2 separate regions of the Homo sapiens genome follow, and region 2 is linked to region 1. The links come from fine-mapping of genetic effects on gene expression. A gene starts in region 1. The other region holds a variant in brackets. All regions are shown on one strand. Distances are between the middles of the regions.

Region 1 (11,271 bases):
ACCGAGGCTGTAAGTGAGGAAGCCGGAGCCCAAGCTCTGCTCCCCCGGCCTGCAGGCTCCCAGCTTTCCTCCGTGCCCTCAGAAGTGCCCAGGACGTGTGTACAACAGAAGTGCTAGAAAATTCCTGTGACCTTTACCTTCACTTCTAGGGAGGGACAGGAGTCTGTGTGCTTGGGTGGCCCCGTGGGGTGATAAAGTGAGGCAGAGCTGTGGGCTGGAGAGGCCAGGTTTGAATGCCAGCCACACAGCCCAGCCGGTGCCGTGGGGGCAGCCCTGCACACTAGGGAGTCCACTCCCCCTGCAGGGCAGGCCACGGTGCCCAGGCAAGCATCAGCTAAGTGCCATGTTCATGCCTGGCACACACGGCACGTCCAGCAGATCTTAATTCCCTTCCCCACCTTATCCCACCCTGGGAATTCCCAATTCTTTCAGAGCAGAGGCTTGGGCCTTTTGTGAATGCTCTGCTCTTCAAGACCTGTATGACAGCCCTGCAGGGTGCCCTCCTGAGCGTGTGTTTGTGGCCTGTACAGGTCCAGGTATTGACGGTAATGAGAGCTACCCTGCCGGCCCTTGAAGCTTTGTATACTTTTTCTCTAATGTTCATAAGGTGACTGTTGTCATTCTGACTTCAAAGATGAAAAAACAAGGTCCAGGCATTTTCCCAAGCACCCAGCGCACATGACAGAGCCAAGCCAGGCCGCAAGCCCGGTGCGTCTGACTCAGGCCCTTGCACTACCCCCACACCCACTGCCTCCCTGTCCTCCCTCCTCAGGGGTACAAACTCCAGATGATCGAGGTGCCCGTCCTCTCCGACGACTCAGTGCCTATCGGCATGCTGGGAGGAGACTACTACAGGTGACGCTGCGTTGGGAGCCACTGGGGACAGATGCCCCCATTTGGGTGATAAGTGCTCGCCTCTGCCGGGAGCAGCTTCTGCTTCAGCAGTGCCCTACCTCAGACCCAGAAATCCACGCTGGGAACACCTTCCCGGCTGGCCCTGTGTGCAGCGAGGGAGGACGGGTGTGGAGGGTACATCTGTGTTCCTACCACCTTCCTGCTGGCATGGTCTTGGCAGCACGGGGAACGTCTGTGCCCGGCCCAGAACATCCCCACTGCTACCTCGTAGCCAGGATGCCACTGTTAGGTCAGTGAGGAACCGGAGCGGTTGTCAAGGCCCACATGCAGGGGCCTAGTGAGATGACCGAGGGCATGGGCATTTGCTTGCGAGGGCCCAGAGAGGCCTCTGGCGCTGGAGGAGTGCCACAGCCTCACTCCTGAATCCCATCCTCCCCTTCCTCCCCAGGAAGCTCCTGCGCTACTACAGCAAGAACCGCCCAACCGAGGCTGTCAGGTGCTACGAGCTGCTGGCCCTGCACCTGTCTGTCATCCCCACTGACCTGCTGGTGCAGCAGGCCGGCCAGCTGGCCCGGCGCCTCTGGGAGGCCTCCCGTATCCCCCTGCTCTAGGCCAAGGTGGCCGCAGTCTGCCTTTGCATCCTGTCCTCCAGCCACCCTTGCTTGCCACTGTTCCCCATGACGAGAGCCTCCTGTCTGCAGTGGCCATCCTGAGGATAGGGCAGAGTGCCCAGGGTGGCCCCAGGGCTTCTAAAACCCCACCTAGACCACCCTCCATGTCAGGTACTGAGCAAGGCCCCAGATCCTTCTCTCTGGAGGAAGAGGGAAGCCCAGGGGTCCTGTTTGTAAAACAACGGTGGCAACAGCTCCTCTTCCAGAGCTGCCTCTGCCTTTATCCTGGGAGATGGGGAGGAAGCCCCATCTCTGCTGTTCCCTGCGTGGAGGAAGCCCACCCAGCAAGCTCTCTCCTACCCCAGGTAAAAGGTGCTCCTTTGCCTGGGTTTGAATTCCAGCGCTGCCACTTCCTCTCTGCACCTCCTGGCAAGTTTCTTCTATTCCCCACGTTTAAAGCGATGGCACCTCCGTCCCAGGGTGGTGTGAGGATTACCCAGTGTGGTAGGTGCTCAATAAATGTTGGTCATTGTTATCACTGAAGCCCAACATGCTAGTGCTTCTAGACCCTTCTGTCAGTGCTGATAAGCCCTTGCTAAGTCCCAGCCCCTTCATGCTTGGCTGGCGTCTGCCCTAGGGCTGGGGTTCTCAAGCCCCTGGCCCTGGCCCAGAGATTTGGATTCCCTTGGCGGCCGTGGAGCCCAGCCTTTGATGTCTTTCAAAGCTTCTGTGGTGCGCCCTGGATTGAGAACCACCACCCGAGGGGTACAGCCCCTCTCTTCCAACCGAGAAGTTCCTGTCCCAGAATGGACCCAGGGACAAGAGACCCTGAGAGCCCTGGGACTGGGAGTGTCTGCTCCTCTGAGGCCAGGAGGCCGGTGCTGGGCCAGAGAGGACGGCGTGGCGAAAGTCAGCGTCCACTGCAGCACAGGATCAGATGGCCGTGTGCTGTGCATGCAGGAGCCTCGCCTTCTGTGTCTTTAGTCTTGAGCCAAAATTTGCTCAAAGACTGATCTCTTCCTTGCAGGGAACAGCTTTGGGGCTGGGGGAACTAGAACCCACATGTTGGTCTAAACCCTGAGAAGGTGGCAGTGAGGAAGTATCCCCTCAGGTGACTGGATCTGTGTTCCTCCTTAACATCATCTGATGGAATGGCAATGAAAAGCGTGGATTGTGGAAAATACAGAAAAACATAAAGGAAAAAACTCCAATCCCCTGAGCCCACCACTGTTCAGGACCCCTGCTTTTGTCACCTACTATTTCCCTTTAGTTTTTAGCAGCGGCTGGATGTGATATGTCTAGTTTAACCAGTCCCCTTGATCTTTCTATATAATAAATAACACAGGAGTGAACATCCTGAATCAGATCTTAGCAGAGATGCTCACATGCGGGGTAACTGTCCATGGTGTGTGGAGGGGTCCTCGGAACCCCCTCTTAGGATCATCTCCACATACTCTCCCAGTTCTGAGATTCGTTACCAATAGCAGGTTTCCGTCACACTGCGATATCAGAGCAGTGCAGGAACTCTCCGCTCCAAGGGGTTTTTTCCTCCTAGGGGAACACTCTGCTAAGTAATGGGCAGAGAACAAAGGGGCTCCTAATTCAAGGCAGGCCTAAGGGAGGGTCAGAAAGAACTTTAGCTGGAGGTATTTACAGATGTGACCTCGAATCCTTGGGGATTCTTGGAAAATGGGCAAGGTGCCAAAAGAGGAGAACTGGCCAGGCCTTCAAAACTAAAACACCAGAGAATTACAGACAGCGAACTTGCCCCTAAGCCCTCGTTGTGGGTTTGTGTTTGAGCATTTAGGAGAGGACTCCAGTGCTCCTCAGCGACAGACACAGCTGCCTCTGCGGTGTCTGAAGGCCCTGGTCGTGGTGACGCTAGATGGCCGCCCTGGGCGCCTCCTGTGGGCGTAGAGGCATCACCACTCTGCACTGGCAGACTCAGCATGGAGTTGGAGCAGAGTCTGACACGAGCACTTGCCATCCCAGGCGTTTCAGTTCTGACTGAGAAGGTAGATGCACAGGGGAGGAGAGGGCCCTTTCGAGCTCCACTCTGCCTCCACCACTCATTCCCTAACCCCGCAGCCTCAGCGCCCTCATCTGTAAAATGGGGAGTTTTGCCTACAGGGTTCAGCACAATGCCAGCCTGACATAGGAACCCCAGTGGATTGTCAGTTTTGCCATTATCCCCTGCATCCTGGAGGTGACACCGCCTGGTTAATAGGCAACACTCCCGACGGCCCAGCACAGCCCCAGGGCAGCAGGAGGCTGGCCTGTGGCCAAGAATGCATGGTGGAGGGGGCCTGGAGGGGGACTGCAGCTCCTCCTCTTCCTGCTTCCTCCCTGCTCCACCCCGTGCCTAGGGCAGCACAAAAGCCAATCGCTAGCAAACTCCCTGCCTAGCAAGGCCCAGCCTGGGGCAGAAATGGCTGCAAGTGGCCGAGGTCTCTGCAAGGCTGTGGCCGCCTCTCCCTTCCCGGCGTGGAGACGAGATAACACGGAAGCCAGGGGAGGTCTGAAGCCTGAGTATGATGCGGTGGTGATAGGAGCAGGTAAAGTGGTAAAGCAGGCCGGGCCAGAGCTGAGGGGCGGGAAGACAGCCCTGCTCAGAGCTTGGTGGGGAGGGGGAGGGGGAGCCAAGCCCCACTGCTCTCTCCTCTGGCATAACCCAGCCAGAAGTTTATACGCTAGCAGGGGCTGCAATGGAAAGCCCTTCCATCTGGCAGGCAGGCACCTGGGATTCCGGTGCTGGCTCTGCTGTGTGGCCTGGGGCAAATGCTTGCCTTCTCTGGGCTTGGATCTTCCCATGGAGAATGACAGGAAGACTAGGTGAGCTCAGGGGTTTCCCTATATCTCTTGCAAAGTGACCTAGTTTCCACCACATTCTCAGCCTATGGTTTGTAAGGGTTGGAAAGAGCCCTGGGCCAACAGACAAGTGAAATCCAGCACCCCGCCCCCTCAGTGCCCTGAGTTCTGGTCACCACTACCTTACCACTGAGGCCACCCCTCGTCACAAGAAACTGCAGTCATTTCATAAAGGCCAGTTAGGATAAAACAGAACTGAGTCCCAGAGTTCCTACTGCGTGTCTGCAGAGGGAGATGGACCCCATTGCCTTGCAGCTCTGGGACATTTGGGGATCTGCAGTGATCTGCCACACTTTGCCAACCCCTGGGCTCAGAGTATCACAGTCTACTGGGTGCTAGGGGAAGAGGCAGGCCCAGGACCAGGTGGTCTTTCCTTAGTGCCTTCCTTTCACACTTGCAGAGGGCCCCAAATGCATGATTGCCAACTGGGTCTATACAGAGATAATGACGGGACCGAAAGCAGACGGCACTCAACATGCAGCTTTGAGGGCATGCCTTCATTTTCATATGTACTAGAGCAGTTGCGAGCTGGTAGATACTCAACACTCACCTCTCCAGGGAAAAATGTGTGATGTATGTGTGTGTGTACATGTATATATATGTATATATACACACATATATGTGTATATATATGTATATGTGTTACGTACATATATATACACATATACACATGCTTATTTTAAATATTGAAATAAAAGATACACTGCACACAATTTTACAAATAAAGATACAATACTCTCAATTTAAATGCAGTCTACCCGAGTGATTCTTACCAAAGGCTTTCTTTGATTTTTGCCAAACTCAGTAGCCAACCTATAGTTGCAAATGACAAATGAGGGTAGCTCCAAAGAGAACGGTGCTCCATATTTTCTGTAAAGAGTAGGATGATCGTGAAACAAATGAAACAACAAAGATTTATGTCCCAACCTTACTCCTTTATTTTTTAAAATTTATTTTTATTTTATTTATTTATTCATTTATTGAGATGGAGTCTTGCTCTGTTGCCCAGGCTGGAGTGCAGCGGCGCAATCTCGGCTCACTGCAACCTCCGCCTCCTGGGTTCAAGCGATTCTCTTGCCTCAGCCTCCCGAGTAGCTGGGACTACAGGCGCCCACCACCACGCCCGGCTAATTTTTGTATTTTTAGTAGAGACGGGGTTTCACCATGTTGGCGAGGCTGATCTCAAACTCCTGGCCTTGTGATCCACCTGCCTCAGCCTCCCAAAGGGCTGGGATTACAGGTGTGAGCCACTGCGCCCGGCCTCCTTCTTTAAATGACAGGAATGATGTTACTCAAATAAGATAATATTGTTCTAATACTAGAATATTTCCTTCAATTTTTGTGCTATTTATTCATGCTATAACAGCTAACACTGTTAGGTTTAATCTGCATTATTAGCATTTTCCCATCACTTTCTTAAGCCTGACCACAAAAAATAAATTCAGCCCTTCTGTGTAATATTTGCTGATGACAGTGGTGTAAATACTCCCACCATAGCCTTTTCTGTTACCAAGATGAGGTTGCTCAATGTGATTTAGGAGAGATACCCAGTAGCACATCATTGTATAGTGTGTCCACCATGCAGATATGTACATAGAGGCCAGTGACTGCCAGGGCATGGGCAACAGTCAAATGTAGTAAAACAAATAGGAGGTAGTGTGTTTTGAGTATTTATTACCTTTGTTTTTAATTTATTTAATTGTAAGCTTATATAATTTAGTTTATATCAATGGCTGTTTGACAGCCGGCTCACAAACTCCCCGGGCTGGTGGGAGCCATCTCCAGCACCTCACTTAGCCTCAGAGAAGCCCCCTGCCTCCTTCCGTGCTCAGCCACAGCTCACCCTGCTGTCTCCTAATGGGGAAGGTTGACTTTAGGTCACCAGCTGCCTTGGTGACTTGCCTACAAGTGCGAGTGAGTCTCAGTGTGTGAGCTTTTCCTTGACATGATTTCTTTAGTTGCTAAACATACCATAAAGCCTGGTTTAAAGGCATCTTGGGCCTCAGTGAGGAACAGAACGGCATCTTCTGAGACAAGGGTTACCTCTGAGTCCCTGAAGGCACACTGGCACCTGGCCGCCACCTTGAAGATGAATCTCATTTAGTCATTTGACTAAATGTGCCTGAGAGTGACTGAGGGGGCTTGTTAAAATGGAGATTCCTGGCCCCATACCTGGTGACGAGCATTCTGAGGGCGGGAGGTGTCTCCCAGAGGTCAGCACATCCACCCAACCAACACTGCCTGATGCAGGCAGCTGCAGAGCCCACGCCCAGAGCAGCTCCTCAAGGGCCCAGGCGCCTGCTATGGGGCCCCTGAGGCAGGTCTGGGGATTAGCAGAGCCCGCAGCTGAAGTCCTCTTCAAGGGAACAGAGGTGTCACCAGAAGCCAAGGAGGGCTCAGCCAGGACTTGAGGGTGGTCACTGGGAGGGGGTCTTGTGCTTTGGATCCTTGACCTTACTCATTTGAGGTCTGCCATGATTGAACTGGACCCAGTTGCCTGGAAGACTATGAGTTTTCCAAGATCGATCATCAGCACCAATTAAAAGACAAATAGCTCCCATTTATCTCATCCTTGCCACACTGCAGGGTCCCTGGCACCCTCTGTTCCCCATGTGAAGAAACTCAAGGCTCAGGGCAGCTGATGACTCTCTGAGGTCATGCCCTGGCAAATAGCAGAGGCTGGGCTGAGCCCAGGACTGTCTGCCTTTAGTTTGCTGCATGTCTTTGAGAGACAGATTCCATCTGTTCATGAGTCCCACTGGCGGATTGTTTAAACTTTCTTATGAACATTTTCAAAAGCCCATACAAATAAAGAGTATGTCAACCAGCACTTTTTAAGATGAACTGTAACCAACTAGCTTCTCACATGCTTCTCATATGGTAAGAGTTAATTTTAGCTCATGAAACTTTTGGTTCTGTGAAACACCTGCTGAACAGACTCCTGGGAAGGGGGTCTGTGGGAGTCGACATTTATACAACCTTCCAGGTGATTCTGAGCTTATCAGAGCTGGAGAGGCACTTGCTACCCAGGGGCTTGGTGTGGAACGTGAGATGCCAAAGCCAAATTCAGGCCTCTCAGCTCAAGGCACCCTGAAGCACAGCTAGTCACTCCAGCACATGTTGAAGCTGTGCATGTTTACTTCATGTTGAACTGTTCATGTTTTATTTTTGGAACACTGGGGATTGGCAAAAAAAAAAAAAACCCATGTGAATAAAGCCTTCTAGGGCACCACTGTGCCGATTGTGAACCACACGTGGACAAAACAAGCCGCGCTTGATAGCAACTACCTACATGACCAGCACTCCCCTGGATGCTGATGCTGCCATGCGAGACGGGACGTTGGCGCAGCAGCATGCCAGCCACCCATTGCTTCTCCTGCTTGCCAACTCAACCGTGCTGCTCCCTCAGACACCATCACTTGCGCCTCCCAAGCAATGGAAGCCCTGGCGATGCTCTCATGAGCCCCTCACTCCAGCAGAGCCCCTGACCAAGCCAGGGGAGCAGGACTTTTCCAGCCAAGGCAAGAACCAGGGTTTTCTGACTCCTTGAAGATCTGGTGTTTCATGGAGTTGAACTAGATGCTGTTCCAACATCTGAGTGCGGGAAGGGGAGGGGAGGGTCACCAAGGATCTTCATGGCATGGGGACGGGCAGCGGGGAGCACATTCCTCAAGGACTGTCTGTCTGCCCGCCCGCTGACCAGTGATGTTTTCCTTCCCTGTCCCGTTTTGTTGCAGGACACAACGGACTGGTGGCTGTGAGTACCTCCCCACTTGATCCCACTTCACTGGCCCTGGGCGTGTGGCTCTCAGCAGCCTGGGAAGGAGTGTGAAGAAGCAGGTGGGATAAGGGCCTTGAGAGAGAAGGAAAAGGCAGCCTAGTCGATGCTCTCTGCTCTCCAGTGCTGACTGGGGGCTGGGTCGAATGCTCATCTGCAGCCAGCTGTGGACATCACAGGCTCCTTTCCTCCCCTTCCCCTAATGGGGAAAGGTGGTTTCCCCATGGCCTGTGAGGGAGTCAGGGAGCTTCCAGAAACAAGCTGACAAGGTGGGGAAGCATGTAACCAACACAGCATGAGAGCAGGTGGGAACCAGGGGATTGGGCACCTGGGGCGGGGTGGGGGCCCTTGACTCCAGATCATAGGCAGCCCTTGTGTCTAGAGCCCTGTGTTCCCAGCCAGGTCCAGGCCAGGTACCACCTTGGAGTACATAGCTGCTATGTGGCCAAAGTGTGCCCTGGAGACATTGAGGAGCTCAGTCTAGCAGAAGGGCCTGTGCCCTGTCCCCAACACAACTGACTTCAAGATCCCAAACTGAGCTGGATATCCCAGAGCTATCCTTAGCTTATGCTTCTGTAACCTGAGTCCAGATACCTCCAGGAGGCCACAGAAGGCATTCAAGGCCACAAAACAAATGTGGAACATCTTCTTGAAGCAGCAGCAGCTCTAGAACATCAATATAGGGGGAAACTGTGGCTGTGCTAACGGACTGATGTTAAACCTTAATACTTTGCCTGATGTCTAAGTTTTACTTGAACATTTTACGTGCGGCATTTTGTAACTCAATGGATCAGTAATTTAAAACATTTATTTTATTTTATTTTATTTTAATTTTTTTTGAGACGGAGTTTTGCTCTTGTCACCCAGGCTGGAGTGCAATGGCATGATCTCGGCTCGCTGCAACCTCTACTTCCCGGGTTCAAGCAATTCTCCTGCCTCAATCTCCTGAGTAGCTGGGATTGCAGGCAGCCGCCATCATGCCTGGCTAACTTTTGTATTTTTAGTAGAGACGGGGTTTCGCCATGTTGGCCAGGCTGATCTCGAACTCCTGATCTCAGGTGACCCGCCTGCCTCAGCCTCTGAAAGTGCTGAGATTACAGGCGTGAACCACCACGCCCGGCCTGATTTTATATTAATATAAACAAAGATTCATCTCCCAGCTCTGCCACTTTGTGAAGGTTAAGGTGTCACTTAGCCTCTCCGAGTCACGGTAAAATGGAACAATGGCACCTGCCCTCACAGAGCTGCTGTGAAGGTAATAGATCATTTGCTGCTAGGACCTGGCACATGCAGCCTTGCCCAAATGGTGGCTGTTATTACTGGAAGTTTCCAGGCCAAGGAAGGCTGGCATCCACAGCCCTTCACCCAAAGCCCACCAGGAACACACTTGTAGTTAGTCTAGTTTGGTTTCTTGCTCTTTGCAGCGAGGGAACTCACATCAGGGGAACCTCGGGTTGCCTCAGTAGGAAGGTGTTAGAAAGAACCTAGCACAGGATTTGAGCTTTGGTGATTTGAGGGAAGGCCTACGAAAATAGGGGTTGCCACAGATTAGATACTGTCAGGAAGGAGGGACAGCCCTGCAACTGGGCAGCTCAAGAAATCTGATCTGTAGGGAGGAGAGACGAGTGTGCAGAGAGCAGTAATTGATAAAGAAGTAGCAGTCACTCATTTCAGCCAAGAGGGGTGTTCGGTATTTTCTGGATGGCACAGAGACATTGCTTTTGTTTGTGCTTGCCTCATTTTATCATAGTCTCATAGAAACCTTATTTGAGGTTGTCAATCTGTGAGATCGTTCCTGTGTAATAGGAGAATGACGCAGCTCACCTTGCGTGCCAGGCCTCAGCCACTGAGTGACAGCTGCTGTTTCTTTCTCAGTAGGTTATGATAGGAGGTTATGTTAGGAGGATAGATGCTGGTTTCACGCTGTCTGGTTTCAATTCCCAACACCTCTACTCATCAGCTCTGTGAGCCTGAGGCAAGCTGTTAACCTCATTGGGCCTCAGTCTTCTCATCTGTAAAATGGGAGAATCATAGTACCTACCTCTTGGCTGGTGGGAAAAATTAAACAAGACAATGTACTCACTGCTTCTGGCACATAATAGCTGCCAAGTGAGCTTTTTGAAAAGTCCGACTTTTGCATGGCACCATTCCTGTGGTCACAGGGCCAGCATTTTAGATCGGTAGATTCATGACCAGTTTGGTTCAACAAATATTTATTGATTTTTCCACTAAGTGCTAGAAAAAAATTAATAGAAATCCTTGCATCATTTGTTCTCCCAAAATAAAGCTCTGCTATGAACCGCTTCATTTACTGAGTACATTCTCTGTGCCAGGGACCACTTAAACCCTGTCTAGGAACCAGCTCAGTTAATCTTCACAGCAGCCTTATGAAGTGGGTAAAGCCGGGACTACTTTCATCAGCCCCACTTTTGCATGTGAACAAACTGAGGCCAGACGGATCAGGTACTGAGGCTGCAGCAGCAGAGAGAGAACGAGGGACTGAACCTGGGTGGAAGGGTCAGCATTCACAAGTTCCACCTCACTGTGCTGCGCTTGTAGGAGAAATGAGGCTGGCTCCCTGCCTGGAGGAGAGCGACATCCCAGGGCAGGGTGGCAGGAAGCAGCGTGAGTCCCCGAGGCACCAGGCCTCTAAGGAGGGAAGACCACTTTCAGCTGGGAAGTGGAGGGGCGGGAGCAGGCCTGTCGGATCTTAGAGGACATCTAGAAAAGGCGAGGGTGGAAAGGGAAGCACAGGGAAGGGCATTCCCAGAGGCAGGAACAGCATGAGCGGGGCAGGGAGGCCATGGGGTGTGGCCCATACTGGCCTATAGTGAGGACCTTAGTCTGCGGGTCAGCCCGAGGGAGCCCTGACATTTCAGAGGGATAAAGGGAGGGCCCTGTGTGCTGCCCCACTTCCCAGGCAGCGTACCTGCAGAGACTGGGGGTGAACACCGCCGTCTTCGAGAGGCGCCATGTGATCGGGGGTGCAGCTGTCACTGAGGAGATCATCCCAGGTGAGCTCTGATGTGGCATGGGGGAGTGGAGGGCAGTGACTCAGGGTGACAGTCTCCATCCCTGCTGACCCCGGGTGACGGTCTCCATCCCTGCTGACCCCGGGTGACGGTCTCCATCCCTGCTGACCCCGGGTGACGGTCTCCA
Region 2 (11,524 bases), 26 kb after region 1:
GCGGTCAAGGCTGACACCTGGATTTCTGTCGGAAACAGAACCTCCTGTTGAAAGGTGCCGTTCACTGGGATGGGAAAGATTGAAGGGGAAGCAGCTGGAGAATGGGGAAAAGGTGGTGGGTTTAAGATGCTGCCAAGAAAGGGTCCAAAGGGAGATATCTGTGGGTAGCTGGACACCGGAGCTGGAGCTCAGGAGAGGGCTGGAGCTGCAGGTTTGGGCATCGTTGCCTTCTTTGTGGTAATAAGCTATGCACATAGACACACTTGTTAGGGAGAGGGTGTAGAGAAGGCAAAGGGCTCTTACAAGAACTTGAGCTCATTGAAGGCTGCTGGGAGAGGGCTGGATGGTGGCAGGGAAGGGCTGAAGATCAAGATGGAAAGGAATAGTTGCACCTGGAACTCTGGGGAGATGAGATCCCACCTCCAGGATCTGAGTCGGATGGTCTGTCCACAGGTATGTGCTGCTGCACCATGTGATGGGGGGCCTGGAGGGAATGCAGGGGGCCTGGGGCTACGTCCAGGGGGGCATGGGTGCCCTCTCTGATGCGATCGCAAGCTCAGCCACCACACATGGAGCAAGCATCTTCACTGAAAAGGTGAACGGCCCCTCTACCCCACCCCAATTATTAGTAAGGATCCCAGGACAGAACAAAGTCTCAGATTTGGAAGGTCCCTTGTTTTACCAATGAACAGAGGGGCCATGAGGGGATGGGTTGCAGAATCAAGAGATTAAGGTCATGCAGTCTGTTAGTGGCTAACCACCCCCTTGGAATTCCCTGGTCACTGAACTGAGACTGAGTGTTTCATGGAGAAGCTGAGGCTTCATGGAGAAGCTGCAGAACTTGGTGGGATGGGTTTGGGATGAAGAAGTTGTGAATGCCTAGGAGCAGCACAGACCATGGAAATCCCGGAAGATCTAACATGGATTTCCCTTCCTGCGGTTTCTGGGGCCTTGTTCTGGTGGGCTCTAGACAGTGGCGAAGGTGCAGGTGAACAGTGAAGGCTGTGTTCAAGGAGTTGTGCTGGAAGATGGCACAGAGGTGAGAAGCAAAATGGTGCTGTCCAACACATCACCGCAGATCACCTTCCTGAAGCTGACGCCACAGGTGAGGCTGTGGGCAGGAGGGTGGAGCTTAGATGTCTGCCAAAACAGGGGTTAGAAATCGTGGGGATTGAGGGAGCCAGGATTGCATCAGGGTGTGAGATGCAAAAGCCAAGTCTCTGCATTTGGGAAACAGGGGGGTAAGGGCAGGTAGCAAACGGGGAAGAAGCCTCACAGGTGGGGAGAAGGGGCCAGAGAGGTGAAGTGACCAAGATTCCGGCCATTGGCAGAGCCAGAGCTAGAACCCAGGTCTGACTTTCAATCTAGAGTTATTTCCACAACTTTCCTACTTTCCTGATTTCTCCCCTCTCACCGCTCTAATTCCATTGTCTTTGTCAATGATCTGTTATATTATCCATGATTATTAATTAATCAATTAACAAAGAGCCACAATACTTCTGGGCATACAACAAGAAATACTGGCACCCAGAACTGGAGACTTCAGTTGATCTTGGTGGATTTCAGCTGCTTAAGGCTTGCTCATGCGTCTGCAGTTGGCTGTGGGTCAGCTTGCCGGCTGCTGATCTTGGCGGGACTCCTTCATGTGCCTGGGAGCTGGCTGGTGGTGGCTGGTCCAGGACCGTTTCTGCTGGGATGACCGGGTGGGGGACTCGGCTATGCTCCATGTGTCTGTCCTCCTCCAGCACGGTAGTCCAGGCATGTTCTCAAGGTCTGGCAAAGGGCAAAAGCAGGCAAGCTCAAGCATGCATGCAAGCATCACATGGTTTGATCTCTTTGCATCCTGTTTGCTAGCATTGGCCAGACCAAGTCTCATGGCCAAGCCTAGAGTCAGAGTGTGAGAGCACTGCAAGGTTACACGGAAGTGGGTGTGCAAACAGGGAGGGGTGAGCTTTGGGGGCAGTTTTTGCAATTGACTTACCCTGTGCTCAAAAGATATGATAACATGTATACGCACATGAAGCTCCTAGCCATTCTTGGGGGCAATTCTTAGGGGCAAAGCACTACTTTTTCTGAGTGATTCCATTACTAAAATTCAACAAACATCAGTAAAAAGAAACTTGTTAAGGCAATTCTGAGATCGTCGAGGCTTCCAAGAGCTTACAGACCAGTAGTGAAAAGAGGCCTGCAAACCACTGACCCCTTTGCAAGCAGGGAGAGGTGCGGACTATTTCACAGTCAGAACTGCTGGCCAAGCGCGGAGGAGGAAGTGGTTAGAGCTGAGTGGGAGGGGATCTAGGAAGGCTTCACAGGGGAGGTGGTTTTGGCTGAGCTTTGAAGGATGAAGAGGATTTCCGGAGGGAGCGACTGAGGGATCTTCCTGAGCAAAGAAAGAAGGCAGCTTCCTTGGGGCCTTGGACATCTGAGGCCTTTCATGGAGCCTTCTCCTTCCAGGAGTGGCTTCCTGAGGAGTTCCTGGAGAGAATCTCTCAGCTGGACACCCGGTCGCCTGTCACCAAGATCAATGGTAAGAGGCACACCACATTGCAGCACTGTCTCCTTTGACCCATCTGAGTGAGAAACCTCCAGGCTGGGGGCAGCTGAACTCAGTCATCATCTCCATTCCCGGACCTCCAGCCTGTGTCCCCCTGCAGCCTGGTCAGAAGGTGAAACACTTGCTCATACTTTCCTACTCCCGTCCGCCACTGAGGGTAGCAGGGTGCTGGCTGTAGAGGGAGGACCTTGTGGGGCTAAGACCTGACCCTCCTCTTTGGTCCCTCAGTGGCCGTAGACAGGCTGCCCAGCTTCCTGGCGGCCCCCAATGCTCCCAGGGGCCAGCCGCTGCCCCATCACCAATGCTCCATCCACCTGAACTGTGAAGACACCCTCCTCCTTCATCAGGCCTTTGAAGATGCCATGGATGGCCTGCCTTCCCACAGGTAGGGGCCCTGGACTTTATGTTCCCTGATGTTCTTCCACATGGGCCTGGGAGGCGGGGCTGTCCATGCCACCCACAGCAGGGATCAGGCCTGGTGTTCAACCTTCACAGTGACTTAGGATCTGCCAAAATCCATACTCCTAAGGACAGGAAGTGCATCCCAGGTGAAAAATCTGAGGATGAGGGCAGGTAAGGGGTGAAGAGCGGCTCAGGTTAGCAGAAGGGGCAGAGGGGCAGAGCACTGCCCAGGAAAGTGCTGGGGCTGGGGAAGAAGAGGAGAAAATGTGTTCTGGGAGAGCAAAGGAAGTTCTCTCATTCAGAGCCCGTCAGAGAGCACGCACTCACCGAGTCCCCTGCTCCGTAGCCTTTCTTTTTCTGATAATCTGCCTTCTTGCAAAACTTCTAAAAGCATTTCCCACCTCCCACTGCAGCTGTATTTCCATTCTTCTGGAACAGGCAGGGGCGCTATAGGAGCAAGTGCCTTTCCATCCTGTCCGCTGTCCAGCACACACTGTTGAAAACCTACTCAGTGCTGGACTCTGTACTGGGTATGGGCTGGGAGAATTAGCGGGGCAGGGGCATGAAACTGACACAAAGCTTATGATAGGACAGGTACACAAATATTTATAGCATGTGGTAAAGAAGATGTGCGCCTGGAAAGAAGGGTATAGGGCAAAGTTCATTCATCCATTTATAAATATTCTGGGGTCTCTATTCTGTGCCAGGCTTGGTTCAGTGAGTGGGCACAGATCAGCAAGCAAAGCCAAGAAAGTCTCAGGTCGTTGACTCTCTATCCATGAGAGGAAGACAATCAACAAGTAAGCACTGATGATGAGCACTGTGGAGAAAAATAGGCAGGGAAGGGGAGGAAAGGCTTCTCTAATAACGTGGCACTTGAGCGGAGACCGGAAGGAAGTGAGAATACAGATCTTATGGGTATCTGGGGAAAAAACGTCCAGACAGAGGGAAGGTCAGGTGCAAAGGCCCTGGGGCAGGAGTGTGCTGCTGTATAGGAGGCACAGGGACGAGGCCAGAGTGGCTGGAGAGAGAGCACCTGGGAATGAAGGGTCTCGGATGGTGCTGGGTCTTGTCAAGTGCCCTGGCTCTTACTCCAGGAAAGTTTGTGCAGAGCCTGCCTTATGCTTTAAAAAGACCAACCTGGACACTGTATGCAGAAAAAGTTAAGGCATCTGTTGCAATGGGTTACTGTTGCAGAATCCAAGGGAGAGAGGACAGTGGCTTGGACAAGGGTGGGGGCAGGGGAAGTGATGAGAAGTGTTGGAAGACTGGGTATGTTTTGAAGGTGAAGCCAACAGGACTTTCTGTTGGATAGGGAGTGGGATGTGGGTCAAAAAAAGGAGCGACTGTGAAATGATGCCTCCATTTACTGAAAAGAGGAAGAGGCGGTGGGGGTGGAGCAGATTTTAGAGGCTAATCAGGCATTGGGGTTTGAACAGGGGATGTTTGAGATCCCTGGTGGACATCCGAGTTCAGCGAGAACATTGCAGCTGAGGGACGCAGGGAGAAGGGGCATTTCCCGTGGCCTTGAAGGAGACTCATATTTGGAGATCAGAGGGAGAACATGCTCCAGGTAGAAAAGGTGTGGCAGGCAAAGGTGGTGGGGTGGGAAGCAGGTCACAGCTCTGCTGGGGCTCGGGGCAGCCCTAGCAGCTCTGTCTTCCATTGGTCTGCTCTGGAAAAGACAGTCAGGCCACTAAAGCCTGGCTGAAATCTGGCTGCTTGGGCGCCTGCTGTCTTAGGCCTGGCCCCTTTCCACACTCCCACTGTCTGTGTGGACCTTCGAGACATTTGCGTTTGGGAGCTGTGGTTAGAGCACAGCGTGTGATGAAGGCAGGCAAGGACAGGCCATGCATTCGGGGGTCTGGGGTCAGGCGAGCTCCTCACAGGTGCTCTGGACCACGCTAGCAGCCGCTAAGCCCGTGCAGGTGGACAACCACTGTGGCTGTAGAGCGACAATCGCCCAGAATTGGTGTCATCTCAGGGCCTCCACTGTGTCCCAAGTCATCTCGGATGCCCTACCCTCCGCACTGCTGCTCTTTAGACCTGCCGTCTCCTCCCTGCCCGCACAGGCCTGTGATTGAGCTCTGCATCCCTTCCTCGCTGGACCCCACCCTGGCTCCCCCTGGCTGCCATGTAGTCTCCCTCTTCACTCAGTACATGCCCTATACGCTGGCTGGAGGCAAGGCCTGGGACGAGCAGGAGAGAGACGCTTATGCAGACAGAGGTAAAGACAGCTGCACGTTCTGCCTCCAGAGCCACAGCCGGGCATGCGACCCAACTGGGCCTGCTCCTCCTCACTGCCCCATTCAGGATTGACAACTGCAGGTGCCATTCCAAAGGGAGGAAATAGTCAAGGGAACCTCAAGTCAACATAGTTGACTGCAGGGGTCAGGAACTGGGCTAAGAAAGTCAAGAAGACACAGTTCCTGCCCTCCAGTTGCTCACAGTCTAGCAAGGGATGGAGGAGACTAATTAAGAAACCTTTTATTACAGCACAGCTGACTGCACGAACCAAAGGAGACGCATGAGCCAGAGAGACAAGGAAGGCTTTCAAAGGAAGGGATGGTCAAGCTGGGTTTCCAAGGATGACTAGGAGCTGGCCAGGCAGCAAAGGGCATTCCAAGCAAGAGAAACAGCTTGATCAGGCCAGGCGTGGGGGCTCATGCCTGTAATTCCAGCACTTCGGGAGGCCGAGGCAGGCGGATCACCCGAGGTCAGGAGTTCAAGACCAGCCTGACCAACATGGTGAAACCCCGTAGCTACTAAAAACATAAAAAAATTAGCAGGGTGTGGTGGCACATGCCTGTAATCTTAGCTGCTCAGGAGGCTGAGGCAGGAGAATCGTTTGAACCCAGAGGCGGAGGTTGCAGTGAGCTGAGATTGCGCCACTGCACTCCAGCCTGGGTGACAGAGTGAGACTCCGTCTCAAAAAAAAAAAAAAAA[AAAAAAAAAAC/C]AGCTTGAGAAAAGTGAAGAGGTGAAAAAAGCTGCATATGCAAAAGGAGATCAGCAGCTTCGTGTTTAAGGTTGGGGTAGGGAAGTGGGGAAAACTGGGGACTGGACTGGCCTACCCATGCATCTTTGGGATGAATTAATCATTTGCTTGTGGACTGATTTTTGTTTTTCACCTATTGAGGTATAATTTGCATATGATAAAATAAGCCCATTTCTGTGTGTAATTTAATGACTGTTAGTAAATTTGCCAAGTTGTACACCCATAGTGCCTCCTCTTCTTCCTAACACCATCTCATTTCTCTGTTTTTGGCACCCCAGTGTTTGATTGCATCGAGGTCTATGCCCCTGGCTTCAAGGACTCTGTGGTTGGCAGAGACATCCTCACACCACCAGATTTGGAGAGAATCTTCGGGCTTCCTGGAGGGGTATGTATAAGCCTAGGGGGTCTCTCACCATAGCCTTCCCTCTGCACCCTCACTTCCTGGCTATGACCTCTCTGCTTTATCTTGTCCCTCCATACTCAGCTTTCATCAGGAAGGGAGGACAGTGGCAGGGACCCCGGCTGAGAGAGGGCAGAGAAGCGGTCAAACCGAGGGAATGGGGGATCCCTAGTGGGGGCTCAGAAACACAGGCAGGACAGCCCCCACTGAGAAGGTCACCAGGATTGTGGCCCTCTGCCTTGACAACTATGCTGGCTCTGCCATCTGACTTTCTTGAGAGAGAGCACCCCCTTCTCAAGGCAGCAGCACATCCTCAGACTTGTCAATTTATCAAAAACTAGAGATTGGAGACAGGGAGACCAGATAGGAGGCCAGGTTCAATCGCCTCATTGCAGCTACTGAGCACTTGAAAGATCAGAGACCACCCTAGGCAACGTAGTGAGACCCCATCTCTACAAAAACAAAAACCCCGCCAGGTGTGGTGGTGCGTACCTGTGGTTCCAGCTACCCAGGAAGCTGAAACAGGATGATCGCTTGAGCCCAGGAGTTTGAGACTGCAGTGAGCTGTGATGCGTCATTACACTTCAGCCTGGGCAACAGAATGAGACCCTATCTCTAGAAAGAAAATTTAAAAAAAAAGCAAAAGAAAGATCTGAGGCCAAAGTGAGATGTGCTGCAAGTGTAGAATGCACACAGTATAGAAAAAAATGTAAAATATCTCATCAATAAGTTATATATTGATTACATGTTGAAATTATAATATTTTGGATATATTGGGCTAAATAAAATATATTATTGACATTAGTTTCATCAGCTTGCCCTTCCTTCCTTCCTTCCTTCCTTCCTTCCTTCCTTCCTCCCTCCCTTCCTTGTTTCCTCCCTCCCTCCCTCCCTCTCTTCCTTCTAGAGATAGGTCCTGTTCTATCACCCAGGCTGGAGTGCAGTAGTGCAATCACGGCTCACTGCAGCCTCGACCTCTGGGGCTGAAGCCATCCATCCTCCCACCTCAGCCTCCTGAGTAGCTGGGCCTACAGGCATGCACCACCACACCTGGCTAATTTTTTTTTTTTTTTGTAGAGATGAGTCTCCCTGTGTTGTCTAGGCTGGTCTCAAACTCTGGGGCTCAAGTGATCCTCCCACCTTGGCCTCCCAAAGTGCTGGGATTGCAGGCATGGGCCACCACAACCGGCTCTGCTTTTACTTTTTAAATGTAGCTACTAATAAATCAAAAACTACATATGTAGCTCCCATTACATGTTCACTGAACAGCACTGGTCCAGGTATAGAGGAAAGAAGGCCAGGCAGCGGGAAGGAAGGGAATGGCTGGGTACAGCAGGCATGGGGCGGGCAGACTTGAGAAGCCTTGGTGACAGTGTGCACATAGGAGTCAGGGTGGAGGTGATGTGAAGGGTAGGCACAGAGGCCAGGGGGAGGAAGGTGGTGTCATTCACTTATGCAGGAGGATGGGGAGGAGCAGACTCGAGGGAAGAGGATGGCCTCAGTTTGGGGAAAGGTGAAGAGGGCAGTGGGGGAGCACTCCTGTGAGGATGCCCAACAGACGTCAGGCTTCTTGTCCAGACCTGCCCCCTGAGTCTGACCTTCGCTTGTCCCATGCTGCCTCCCTTCTCAGCCTGGGGCTGGTCTCACCCAAGCCAGGGGGGCAGAACCGTGCTCGGGCTCCGTTGCCCCTTGTCTGCCATTCACAGTGATCCTGCTGGAGCTTGGACACCGGGGTCCGGGCTCAGGTGGATGCCTTGGCCAGAGAAGGGAGTTCTCGCAGAGACGCATGCCAACAGCCACAATAAGTCAGACAATTCTGTTTTTCCAACAGAGGGAGAGGGATGCAGAGTAGAGAGCAAAACCCTCTTTTCCTTCCCGTTCAGTTCGTGTTCCCCACCCTGCTTTCTTCCTCAAAAAGCCTCTGGAAAACTTCACTCCCAGCCCCAGGGCATGTGCCCATTCCGTCTCATCTCCTTCCCTTTCTGCATTTTAAAACCCAAGAAAATATCCTGGAAGGAGAAGAACATTTGCTGAAGAACAGGGGAGGGGAAGAAACCCAGCCAGAGCAGGAAAGGCTGTAACTCTCCTGTGCTGATGACTGTGGCCCTGCCTCTGCAGAACATATTCCACTGCGCCATGTCCCTGGACCAGCTCTACTTCGCCCGCCCCGTGCCCCTGCATTCTGGCTACCGCTGCCCTCTCCAGGGCCTGTATCTCTGTGGAAGTGGGGCTCATCCTGGTGAGTGACCTGGAGTCCCACTACCCTGTGGGGACTGGGAGGGCTCACTGGAGGCCAGAGACTTGGAGAAGGAGGAAGTTAAGCAATGAAGGTGGCAGAGAGGGAGGGGAGCAGGGAACTCCCAACATAAGCTGCCCTGTGTTCAGAATTATCCATGCACAGGTGAGCACACAGCCGCTGCCTCCACCAGGCTGACCACAGCCCACAGTTGAGCTCACACCTCCCCTTCAGGAGGCCTGGGGATGCATCCTGGTGGAGGCATCTCACCACATTCCAATGTGGGGTTGTGAGAGACCCATGTCCCTAAATTCCCCATCCGTATATATATTTAGACAGGGCTTCACGCTATCGCCTAGGCTGGAGGTGCAGTGGTATGATCACAGCTCACTGCAGCCTCAACCTCCTGGGCTCAAGTGATCCTCCTGCCTCGGCCTCTGGAGTAGGTGGGACTACAGGTGTGTGCCACCATGCCTGGCTAATTTTTTATTCTTTTGTGGAGATGGGTTTTGTTAGGTTGCCCGGGCTGGTCTCGAACTCCCGCGCTGAAGTGATCCTCTCCACTCAGCTTCCCAAAGTGCTGGGATTAGAGGCCTCCATCCATATTTTAGACCAGGAAGGATGGATAAAGTTAACTTCTTCAACTTTACAATTCTTTCTTGTGCGCATTCCAAGCCTAACGGAGCTGGCTGAGGCTATTTGCTATGCACACTTTCTCTCAGCTGTGTAGACTTGGTACCCTGGAAAGAGTCTGGGCTTACACATCTTCCCCCTCCCCCCAGCCCCTTATTCTGAAATTTTAACTTCACTTACTAAGCGTGTGCCCATCCAGCACGTCCACCCTCAGCCGTTGAGACTGTGGGCTGTGGACCTGGCCCCTCCCCAGACCTTTGGTGCAGGAAGCCTGGAGGGAGCCAGAATCTATTGAGCGGCTGTCTTAGGTGATTCCAGTGCCCATGCCCCCGGACCCCTCTAACCAGCCCCACTCTGCTTTGTTGCTGGATCTCTGTAAGCCCTGTCCCCACCCCCACCCTGGCAGGTTTTTGAGCGGAGCTTTGGTTCATAGGAGATTCCCTTCCAGGAGGAGGTGTGATGGGAGCTGCTGGGCGAAATGCAGCACATGTGGCCTTTAGGGACCTCAAGAGCATGTGACCCTGAACCAGCTCTGACCCAGGAAGAAGACTCCACCCCTGAATTCCAAGTGCTCCATTGGATCAGCTTCCCAGGAAGTTCAGCTTCGGGTTAGTACATAAGGCCACCACAATGCTCAAGAAATTATTTTAGAAAAAACGTACGAGTTACATTTAGTGCAAGTTGACCTTATGCCCATGCCTCCATACATGGACTGGTTCTGTTTTATTAAAACTAATATTTCATACAGATTATTTTGCTTGTATTTTTTCTCTGTGTTAGTTGGTGGGATAGACTTCTCTGGGGTACTCATAATTCTTACATCAGCTAAGAAGCAGTCCATTTAAAGGCCAGGCATGGTGACTCATGCCTGTAATCCCAGGACTTCGGGAAGTTCAGGCAGGCAAATCACTTTGAGGTCAGGAATTCAAGACCAGCCTGGCCAACATGGTGAAACCTCATCTCTACTAAAAGTACAAAAATTAGACAGGCATGGTGGCGGGCGCCTGTAATCCCAGCTGCTTGGGAGGCTGAGGCAAGAGAATCACTTGAACCCAGGAGGTAGAGGTTGCAGTGAGCCGAGATTGTGCCACTGCACTCCAGCCTGGGCGACAGAGACTCCATCTCAAAACAAAACAAAACAAAAAACAGTCCATCTAACCAGTGGAAGAGTCTGATCCAAGCATCCCCTGTCCTTGCCTGGGACCCCCACTACCAACAATTGGAGGACTGCCCAGGTGGGGCCCAGTCAACCGCTGTCACATTCCTGGCAAGCTATAAGAATGGACCCAATTTCCCCATGATCCACAGAGTCACCCTCAAAGGCCACGGTCCTGAACAATGCTGGGCATCTCAAGCCACAGAATCCTCCAGTCAGGCAAAAAGCAGCCAAGGGTGACTGCAAAGTGGATTCCACTGAGGCCGTCTGGGAGCCCGGTCTTCCTGATTCCAGAGCATTCAGGCTTCTGCCTCCCATGAGCTAAGTCTGTTGCATCACCAACACCTTTCAATATAAACCTCTAGAATTCTAAAGAGAGTTGAATTGTCACCCTTGTCCAGGAAAATCCATCCAGAGTTCCCGTGGTAATGCAGCCCTCCCAGCCAGCTTCTCCAGTTCCAGCAGCCAAGGCCACAGTCCAAGCCGTCCCATCTGCAGATAAGGCAGGATCTTCCCTGGGAAAGCTTCCCTTCCTCCATTTCCTGGGCAAATTTATACAGGATCAAATAGATCCACCTCATTACTTAATGTTGGTAAACTCAGATTTCTCAGCTGTAAAAGAGTTGTTTTAAAGCTCACATCAAACAATAGATCATGTTTCCATCCAGTATCTAGCACATGATAAGCATTCAGTACATGGTGGAGCTGCTGCTGTGGCTTTTATTGATGAAATCGTTTTTGTCGTTTTTGTCATTTTTGTATTCTGCAGAAGGTGATCTTTTCTATATACTTTTTAACCTGGCACCCAGAATTGAAACTAGCCCCCTAGAAGCATTGTGACCAGGACAGTGCAGAACAATGTTTGGATCCCCAAGCTTTTTCGAAAGTAGCCAAGCCCCCTCCCTCATTCAGCATCAGGACCATCAACTTCTTGATCTTGTTGAAAATTTGTTTTTGGTCAATATTGCTGGTTTTCTGGAAGGAAAGAAGGAAGACAGGGAGAGAGGGAGGAAGAATGAGAGAAAAAAAGGGAGGGAGGGAGGAAGAAAGAGGAAAAAGAGAAGAAGGAACAAAGAAAGTGAGGGAAGGAAGGAGAAAGGAAGGGAGGGAGGGAGGGAGGGAGAAATGAACATAGAAAATCTTCAAAG

Which allele goes with the higher level. Alleles are on the strand shown, and positions count from the first base shown. SD is a standard deviation of normalised expression in the study named.
In carriers of allele AAAAAAAAAAC in region 2, the expression in prefrontal cortex of the gene that starts at base 3,848 in region 1 tends to be lower than with C alone (small effect, 0.31 SD a copy in BrainSeq).

The links. PIP is the estimated chance that this variant, and not a neighbour inherited with it, causes the effect.
Region 2: its variant is fine-mapped to the expression of PYROXD2 in prefrontal cortex (BrainSeq, PIP 0.95).

The regions. Positions count from the first base shown.
Region 1 is chr10:98,407,759-98,419,029 of GRCh38, reverse strand. It overlaps PYROXD2 (pyridine nucleotide-disulphide oxidoreductase domain 2), which reads left to right and starts at 3,848. Exons shown (of 16, transcript NM_032709.3): 1 at 3,848-4,021; 2 at 8,072-8,091; 3 at 11,033-11,126. The coding sequence starts at 3,895. HPS1 (HPS1 biogenesis of lysosomal organelles complex 3 subunit 1) reads left to right here. Exons shown (of 20, transcript NM_000195.5): 19 at 773-855; 20 at 1,304-2,832. The coding sequence ends at 1,466. RefSeq lists a silencer at 9,612-9,812 and an enhancer at 9,819-10,018.
Region 2 is chr10:98,382,013-98,393,536 of GRCh38, reverse strand. PYROXD2 (pyridine nucleotide-disulphide oxidoreductase domain 2) reads left to right here. Exons shown (of 16, transcript NM_032709.3): 9 at 454-595; 10 at 971-1,105; 11 at 2,455-2,527; 12 at 2,783-2,939; 13 at 5,029-5,183; 14 at 6,230-6,336; 15 at 8,470-8,590; 16 at 9,669-9,969. The coding sequence ends at 9,739. Among named protein-coding and RNA genes, the nearest start is that of MIR1287, 7.5 kb to the left of the region's middle. RefSeq lists an enhancer at 1,980-2,029. The variant AAAAAAAAAAC/C (reference allele first, on the strand shown) is at 5,903.